2 linked regions of the Homo sapiens genome follow. The protein of the gene in region 2 purifies or fractionates together with the protein of the main gene of each other region. This does not show direct contact. Each region holds a gene or a part of one and is shown on either strand. Other genes may lie near its edges.

What was found.
Region 1: the proteins of MYLK3 (region 2) and PCDHB5 purify together in Homo sapiens (affinity purification with mass spectrometry; one large-scale study listed by BioGRID and IntAct). This does not show direct contact.

The regions. Positions count from the first base shown.
Region 1 is NC_000005.10:141,133,826-141,138,079, reverse strand, and holds the start of PCDHB5 (protocadherin beta-5 precursor), read right to left. Parts: upstream 2,875-4,254; 5' UTR 2,646-2,874; coding exon 258-2,645; 3' UTR 1-257. UniProt on the Homo sapiens protein: Potential calcium-dependent cell-adhesion protein. May be involved in the establishment and maintenance of specific neuronal connections in the brain.
Region 2 is NC_000016.10:46,724,231-46,728,053, reverse strand, and holds part of MYLK3 (myosin light chain kinase 3), read left to right. Parts: intron 1-676; coding exon 677-818; intron 819-3,823. UniProt on the Homo sapiens protein: Kinase that phosphorylates MYL2 in vitro. Promotes sarcomere formation in cardiomyocytes and increases cardiomyocyte contractility.

The sequences.
Region 1 (4,254 bases), on a different chromosome or scaffold from region 2:
ATACCAACAAGAAGAGAAAAAAATCTCAGGAAAATCAACAGCATGCATGGATTTGGAATGACACTATGTAAATAAATGCAATGAAATAAAATTGACTTTTCAACACTTGGACAGCATGAAGTTCAACAGACAAATCCATTAAAAAGGGAAATAAAAGCTCAATCTCAAGGTGAAATTTTTGTCCATGACACTCTCGAATTCTAGATCTGAAAAAGTTTGGGATAAATGGCAGAAAACAACGCGTCATCACGAGATCTCTAATTTAATCCAAAGCTATTCCGGAAGGCAGCAGTTTTCCCTATTTCTTCACCAGCGCCCTGGGGCAAAAGGTTAGGAATAATCGGCTTCAGGAACTTGAACTCGCCGGCCCCTGAGTCTCCGGTCAAACACACCTCGTAGTGGTAGCTCTGGGATAGGGTCCCGGTGCCGCTCACGTCCACCAGATGCCCTGGAAAGGGGCCCTCGGGCACCGAGCAGCGACCGACCGGGGCCGCCCTGCTCCTCCTGCACAGCCGCACTGCCACGAACAGGAGCACCGAAAAGAGGAAGAGCGACGACACCGAGGCCAATGCCACCACCAGGTAGACAGTGAGCGAGTCGGCCTGGGCCTGGGCCGGGGCCGCCTCCGGCAGCGGCAGGTAGGGCTGGGAGAAGCCGTCCACCAGGAGCACGTGCAGCGTGGCGGTGGCCGAGCGCGGAGGCTCGCCATTGTCCTTGACCAGCACCACCAGCCTGTGCTTGGCCGCGTCGCGCTCGCTCAGCAGCCTGGCGGTGCGCACCTCGCCATTGTGCGCCCACATGCTGAACAGCCCGGGCTCCGTGGCCTTGAGCAGCTGGTACGACAGCCAGGCGTTCTGGCCCGAGTCACCGTCCACCGCCACCACCTTGGTCACCAGGTAGCCCGGCTCGGCCGCCCGGGGCACCAGCTCGGTGCAAGGCGCCGAGCCGTTCTGCAGCGGATACAGCACGAAGGGCGAGTTGTCGTTGGCGTCCAGCACCAGCACGCGCACCAGCGCCTCGCTGCTCAGCGCCGGGGAGCCGCGGTCTGTGGCTCCCACGCGGAACTCGAACGCCTGCAGGGCCTCGTAGTCCAGCGACCTGAGGGCAAACAGGTGGCCGTTGTCCGCGTTGATGGAGACCAGGGAGGCGAGGCGCAGGTGTGGGTTCTGGGGCGGCAGCAGCGAGTAGGTGACCTGGGCGTTGGTGCCTGAGTCTCTGTCTGTGGCGCTGACACTGCCGATGTGCAGGGCGGGGCTGTTGTTCTCTCGGACGAACAGGGTGTAGGAGGTTTGGGTGAAGGCGGGGGCGTTGTCATTGACGTCGGAGACCAGGACCGTTATGTTGTGCTCGGTTTTCAGCCTGGGTGTCCCCATGTCGGTGACAGTGATGGTGATGTTGTACTCGGCTTGGCTCTCTCTGTCCAGTGTTCTCTGTGTCACTAGGGTGTAAAAGTTTTTTAATGTGGGCTTCAAAAGAAAGGGGAGATCATTCTGGATGGAGCAAATCATCCTACCGTTGTCCCCGGAGTCTGGATCAGAAACACTGAAAACGGCAACTACAGTTTCCGGGGCATTTTCTGGGGTAGGGCTGGAGAGCGTAGACATGGTGAGTTCAGGGGCGTTGTCATTCACATCCACCACTTCTATAGCCACAGTGCATTTTCCTGAAAGGCCCCCACCATCTGTGGCTACAATTTCCACGTTATAATATGGAGTTGCCTCGAAATCCAATGCCCTTTTCAGGCGAATTTCTGCTGTTTTCTCGTCTATTACAAATGGTTGAGTAACTTCATCGCCTTGGAATAGAGCATAGGCTACACTCCCATATGCTCCTGCATCTAAATCTCGAGCGGAGACAACGACAACTAAGGAGTTAAGGGGGCTGTTCTCGGGCACCTGTACCTCATAGAATGATTGTAAAAATTCGGGGGCGTTGTCATTATTATCCAAGACGACAATGCGAATTGTGGTGGTCCCGGACCTGGGCGGAGCCCCACCGTCCAGTGCAGTGAGTGTTAAGCTGAGCTCAGGCCGCTCCTCCCGGTCCAGCGCTTTGTCCAGCACCAGCTCTGGGTATTTTCTGCCATCTCCGCGATTATGCGTAGCAACATGAAAGTGTGAATTTGGGCTGATTGTGTAGTTCTGAACAGTGTTGCTACCTATGTCAAAGTCCTGGGCTATTTTTAAGGGAAACACAGTCCCTGGCTGGGTGCTCTCTGGGATTTTTAGGAGCATTTCCTTCTCTGGGAACTCTGGGGCATGGTCATTTATATCTGTGAGCTGCAGATCAGTTTGAAAAAACTGCACTGGATTTTCTAGTAAGAGCTGGAAATGCAATATACAGGGTTCTGTCGCCCCGCACATCACCTCCCGGTCTAGTTTTTCATATAGAAGCAAATTGCCGGTCTTTATATCAAGCTGCAAGAGCTCTTTGTTTCCTTTGTAATGCATTCGCGCGCCCCGAGTGGCCAGTTCCCCCACCCCAAGACCCAGGTCTTTTGCCAGGTTGGCCACAGAATAGCCACTTTCTGTTTCTTCTGGTATGGAATACCTAACTGCCTCAGAGCCAGCCTCCCACAAAAGCAACAATATAGCAAGAAACATAACTTGCCTTTTCTGTGGCGTTTTTGCTAGCGCAGTCTCCATTGTTCAGACCCGGTCCAGAAGGCGCAGTTTAACTCCGTACACAATCCACCCAGATGATTTGCATAAATAACCGCGAATCCGATCTTTCTTGACTGATTTCCACAAGAACGAAGCCCACCCTGAAGATCTAGCCACTAGATCTTACCTAAAATGCGTCCTTCTTTTAGAGTTTGGATTCCCCAGCTTAATGGCGTCTGAGTTATCCGCAGAGCCCACTATCCACACTCTTAGCCTGCAGCGCCACCAGGCGTCCTAATTTACTATTGCATATAGTATTTGCCATTTCATCCTAAATTCTAACTGACGTGTATCCATACCCTTTTGTCACATAAGCTCTCCCGATGGTATCTCCAGCTCTTAGTTGCTGAAAGTTCTAAATAAATGTTGTGGAGTTAATTTTCAGTGAGAAAATACTTTTGAGAAAAAAACTAAAATTATATATTAATCTCCATAAAAGTACCCTTGAGTACACAAATACACTTTGTTTGGTGTTTCTTATTTGATTATATTAAATAAGTGATCAGGAATATCTATAGAAATTTAAAGTTTAAGAAAAATTACTTTCACTTTGAAGTAAACACCAATAACACCCAGAAAATGGCACAAATCATAGGTGTATAACTCAATGAATTTTCGCAAAGTGAACACACTCCTGTAAGTAGAACCTAGATTAAAAATACTACCCAAACCCAAGTCCCCACCTGCTATTGTCTGGTTACCACCCTCTCCCCAAAAGATAAGCACTGTCCTGACTTCTGTTGTCATAGGTTTTTTTTGCTTTTTTTTTTTTTAACTTTATACAAATGGAGTTATAGATTGTTACTCTCGTGTGTCTGGCTTCTTCTCCTCAATATTATGTTCAGCAAATTGATCTGTGGCATCTTGTTCTTATTTGTTTTATTCTCATTGCTTTATATCATTCTGTTGTATGAATATACTATGATTTATTTATTCATTCTCCAGTTGATGAACATTGTTTTCCAGGTTTAAGCTCTTTGGGGTAGTACTGGTATAAACATCCTTGTACTAGTCTTTTGGTGACCACATATATGTGTTTATGTTGAATATATTCAAAGGAGTTGGATTGCTATGCATTAAGATGTGCACATATATTTTGCTTTAGCAGATAATGAGAAAGTTTTCTCAAGTAGTCGTACTAATACCAGCAAAGTATGAGAGTTCCAGTTGCTCCACATTCTTGTCAACATTTGATGCTATCTTTTCCATTTTAAACCACTCTGGTTAGTGTATGGTGATATGATATTGTAATTTTAGTTAGCATTTTCCCTGATGATTAAACAATTTGAGCACATTTTCATGTTTATCAGCCATTAGGATACAATCTTGTGAAGGGCTTATGCAAACCTTTTTACTTTTTTGGGGGGAGGCATTTGCCTGTTTGCTTATTGATCTGCAGAAGTTTCTCATATATTCTGGGCATAAGTCCTTTTTAAGATATATGTATTGCAAATATCTTTTCCCACTCTATGGTTTTTATTTCAAGTCTATTATGTGTCTTTGATGAATAAAATTTCTTACCTTTAGTCAGATTTGTCAATAAGTTTCATGTATGATTAGCATTTTTTTGTGTTCTATTTAAATGTTCACA
Region 2 (3,823 bases):
TTCATGTATGGCCTTATTGGCCCATTTAGGCTTATGCCACAAAGGTCTGAGTTGGCCTCCATAGGTGAATGAGTTCACAGCCCTGGTCAGAATCATCCAGAGTGTGCCTGGATCATCAACACTGATGGCCATCCCCTCTTCCCTTTGACCTGTCACTTCCTTTTTACCACGCCTAATCTTTGCTGGGAGCAGACTGGAGCAAAGGTCCCAATAAAACCCCAATGGCAGGCCCGGCGGGGTGGCTCACGCCTATAATCTCAGCACTTCGGGAGGCCGAGGTGGGTGGATCACATGAGGTCAGGAGTTCGAGACAAGGCTGACCGACATGGTGAAACCCTGTCTCTATTAAAAATACAAAAATTAGCCGGGTGTGGTGGTGAGCACCTATAATCCCAGCTACTTGGAAAGCTGAGGCAGGAGAATCACTTGAACCCAGGAGACGGAGGTTGCAGTGAGCAGAGATCGCGCCACTGCACTCCAGCCTGGGCGACAGGGTGAGACTCTGTCTAAAAACAAAACACACAAAAAACCCAAGGGCAGTGGCAGCAGCCCTGTGACCCATGGGGTGTGATGGTGGGCCTACCCGGGCTGGCCTCTTTTGGCCCTATAATGACAGTGGACAAGCCCTGAAGAGCCTTGCTTAGGCTGGTGCCTGCCTCTCCCTTTGCTCTGGCAGCGTGGACGGGGGTGAGCTCTTCGACCGGATCACAGATGAGAAGTACCACCTGACTGAGCTGGATGTGGTCCTGTTCACCAGGCAGATCTGTGAGGGTGTGCATTACCTGCACCAGCACTACATCCTGCACCTGGACCTCAAGGTGGGTTCTGCCCTGGGCATGCGGTAGGGGCCCCTGGTGTCCTAGCTCCTGGCGTGCTCTCACCATTGAGAGCTCTATCCACAGACAGTCCCAGCTTCCATTCCTGGCTCTCTGTCATTTTGTAGTTCTGGAGTCTGGGACAGGCCACTCTTGCTGCCTCTTGGGGCTGTAGTTCTTCCATCTGGATAATGGTACCTCTTTAAGTATTATTTGAAGATTAAGTGAAACAATGAGCTTTTCTTCTTTAAAAATATCTTTAAGATTACTTTTTTTAAAAGTTCAAAAGGGAACATAGGCTTTTGGTAACAACTATAGACAACAGAGTAGTGTGTAAAATACACAGTGAAAGTTCCTCCCGCCAGCCCTCCGTGCGGAAGGGACTTCTCTGTGAGCAAGCTGGCATGACTCACAGACACACAAAAGGAGATCCTACGATGCATTCTTCCCTCCCTCCCTCCCCCTCTCTCTCTTTCTTTTCTTTCTTTCTCTCTCTCTTTCTTTTCTTTCTTTCTTTCTTTCTTTCTTTCTTTCTTTCTTTCTTTCTTTCTTTCTTTCTTTCTCTTTCTTTCTTTTTCTTTCTTCTTTCTTTCTTTCTCTCACTTTCTTTTTCTTTCTCTTTCTCTTTTCTCTCTCTCTCTCTCTTCTCTCCTCTCTCCTCTCTTTCTTTTTTGGAGACAGGGCCTCTCTCTGTTGCCCAGGCTGGAGTGCAGTGGTGCCATCATATCTCACTGCAGCCTGGACCTCCCAGGCTTAAGTGATCCTCAGTCTCCCAAGTAGCTAGGACTACAGGCACGTGCCACCACACTTGGCTAATTTTTGTATTTTGTATAGAGACAAGGTTTCACCATGTTGCCCAGGCTGGTCTTGAACTCCTGGACTCAAGCAATCCTGCCTCAGCCTCCCAAAGTGCTGGGATTACAGGCATGAGCCACCACACCTAGCCCAGATGGCTGCAAATGCCATTAATTCATTCCTTTTTATGGCTGAGTAGTATATGGTACTGGCATAATAATAGGCGCTGAGTGGTATATGGTACTGGCATAAAAATAGGCACATAGACCAATGGAACATAATCGAGAACCCAGAAATAAACCCTAATACTTACAGCCAACTGACTGACAAAGCAAACAAAAACAAGTGAAGAAATGACACCCTATTCAACAAATGGTGCTGGGATAATTGGCAAGCCACATGTAAGAGAATGAAACTGGATCCTCATCTCTCACCTTATACAAAAATCAACTCAAGATGGATCAAGGACTTAAATCTAAGGCCTGAAACTAAAAATTGTAGAAGATAACATTGGAAAAAATCCTTCTAGACATTGGCTTAGGCAAGGATTTCATGAGCAAGAACCCAAAAGCAAATGCAATAAAAACCAAATGTTTGAAGAAGAATTAACACCTTTACAAATTCTTCCAAAAATAGAAGAGGAGAGAACACTTGCTTCTCATTTTATGAGGCTAATCTTATCCTGATACCAAAATCAAAGACATCACAAGGAAAGAGGGCTACAGACCAAAATCCCTTATGGATATAGATGCAAAAATTCTCAATAAAGTATTAGCAAACTGAATAAAACATATAAAAAGGATTATATTCATGACAAAGTGGAATTTATCCCAAGAATGCAAGGTTGGTTTAACATATGAAAATCAACCAACGTAATGGGCCATATTAATAGAATAAAGGATGAAATCATGTAATCATTTTAATAGATGAGAAAAAATAATTGACAAAATCCAAAAACTTTTCATGATGAAAATAATAAACAAATGAGGAACAGAACTTCCTCAACCTGATAACGGCCATTTGTGAAAAACCCACAGCTGACACTATAGTTTGTAGTAGGAGACTGAATGTTTTCTCCTTAAAATCAGGAATAAGACAAGGATATCTGTTCTTGCAACTTGTATTAAACATTTTACTGGAGGCTATCACTAGGGCAATTAGGCAAGAAAATAAAAGGCATTCAGATTGGGAAGGAAGTAAAACTGTCTCTATTTGCAAATGACACGCTCTTGTATATAAAAACTCTTAAAGAGAGGAGACTATTAGGATTAATAAATTCATCAAGGTTGCAGTATACAAGACAAATATACAAAAATCAATTGTATTTCTAAATACTGGGACTGAACAATCTGTAAATAAAATCAAGAAAATAATTTCATTTATGACAATATCAAAAGAAAAAATACACTTAGAAATATACTTAGAAAAAAATTAACAAAATAAGTGCAAGACATTCTCTGAAAACTACAACAAAATGTTAAGATAATTCAAAGACCTAAATAAATGGAAAGGCATGCCATGGTCATGGATTGGAAAATTTAATATTGTTAAGGTGACAATACTCCCCCATTGATCTATAGATTCAACATAATCCTTATCAAAGTCATAGCTGGCTTCTTTCCAGATATTAATGAAATCCTAAAATTCAGATGGGAATTCAAGGGACCTAGAATAACAAAAACAATCTTGAAAAAGAACGAATTTGGAGGACTAACTTTTCCCAATTTTGAAACTTTCTACAATGCTACAGAAACCAAAACAACGTATTACTAATGTAAGGTTAGATATGTGCATCAAATTAATACACTTGAGAGTCTAGACATAAACCATTACATTTATGGTCAATTGATTTGTGACAATGGTGCTATGACAATTCAGTAGAAAATTATAGTCTTTTCAACAATTGTGCTGGGACCCCATGCTAGGGAGCTACATGTGAAAGAACGAAGTTGGACCCTTACCTCACACCATATACAAAAATTAATTCAAAATGGATTGTAGACGTAAATGTAAGAGCTAAAACTATAAAATTGTTAGAAGAAAACATAGTAATAAATCCTTATGACCTTGGATTAGGCAATGGTTTCTTAGATATGACACTAAAAATATAATTAAAAAAAGATAAATTAGACTTCATCAAAATGAAAAAAATCTCATACTTCAAAGGATACCATGAGAAAAGTAAAATAATAGCTCACAGAATGGGAGAAAAT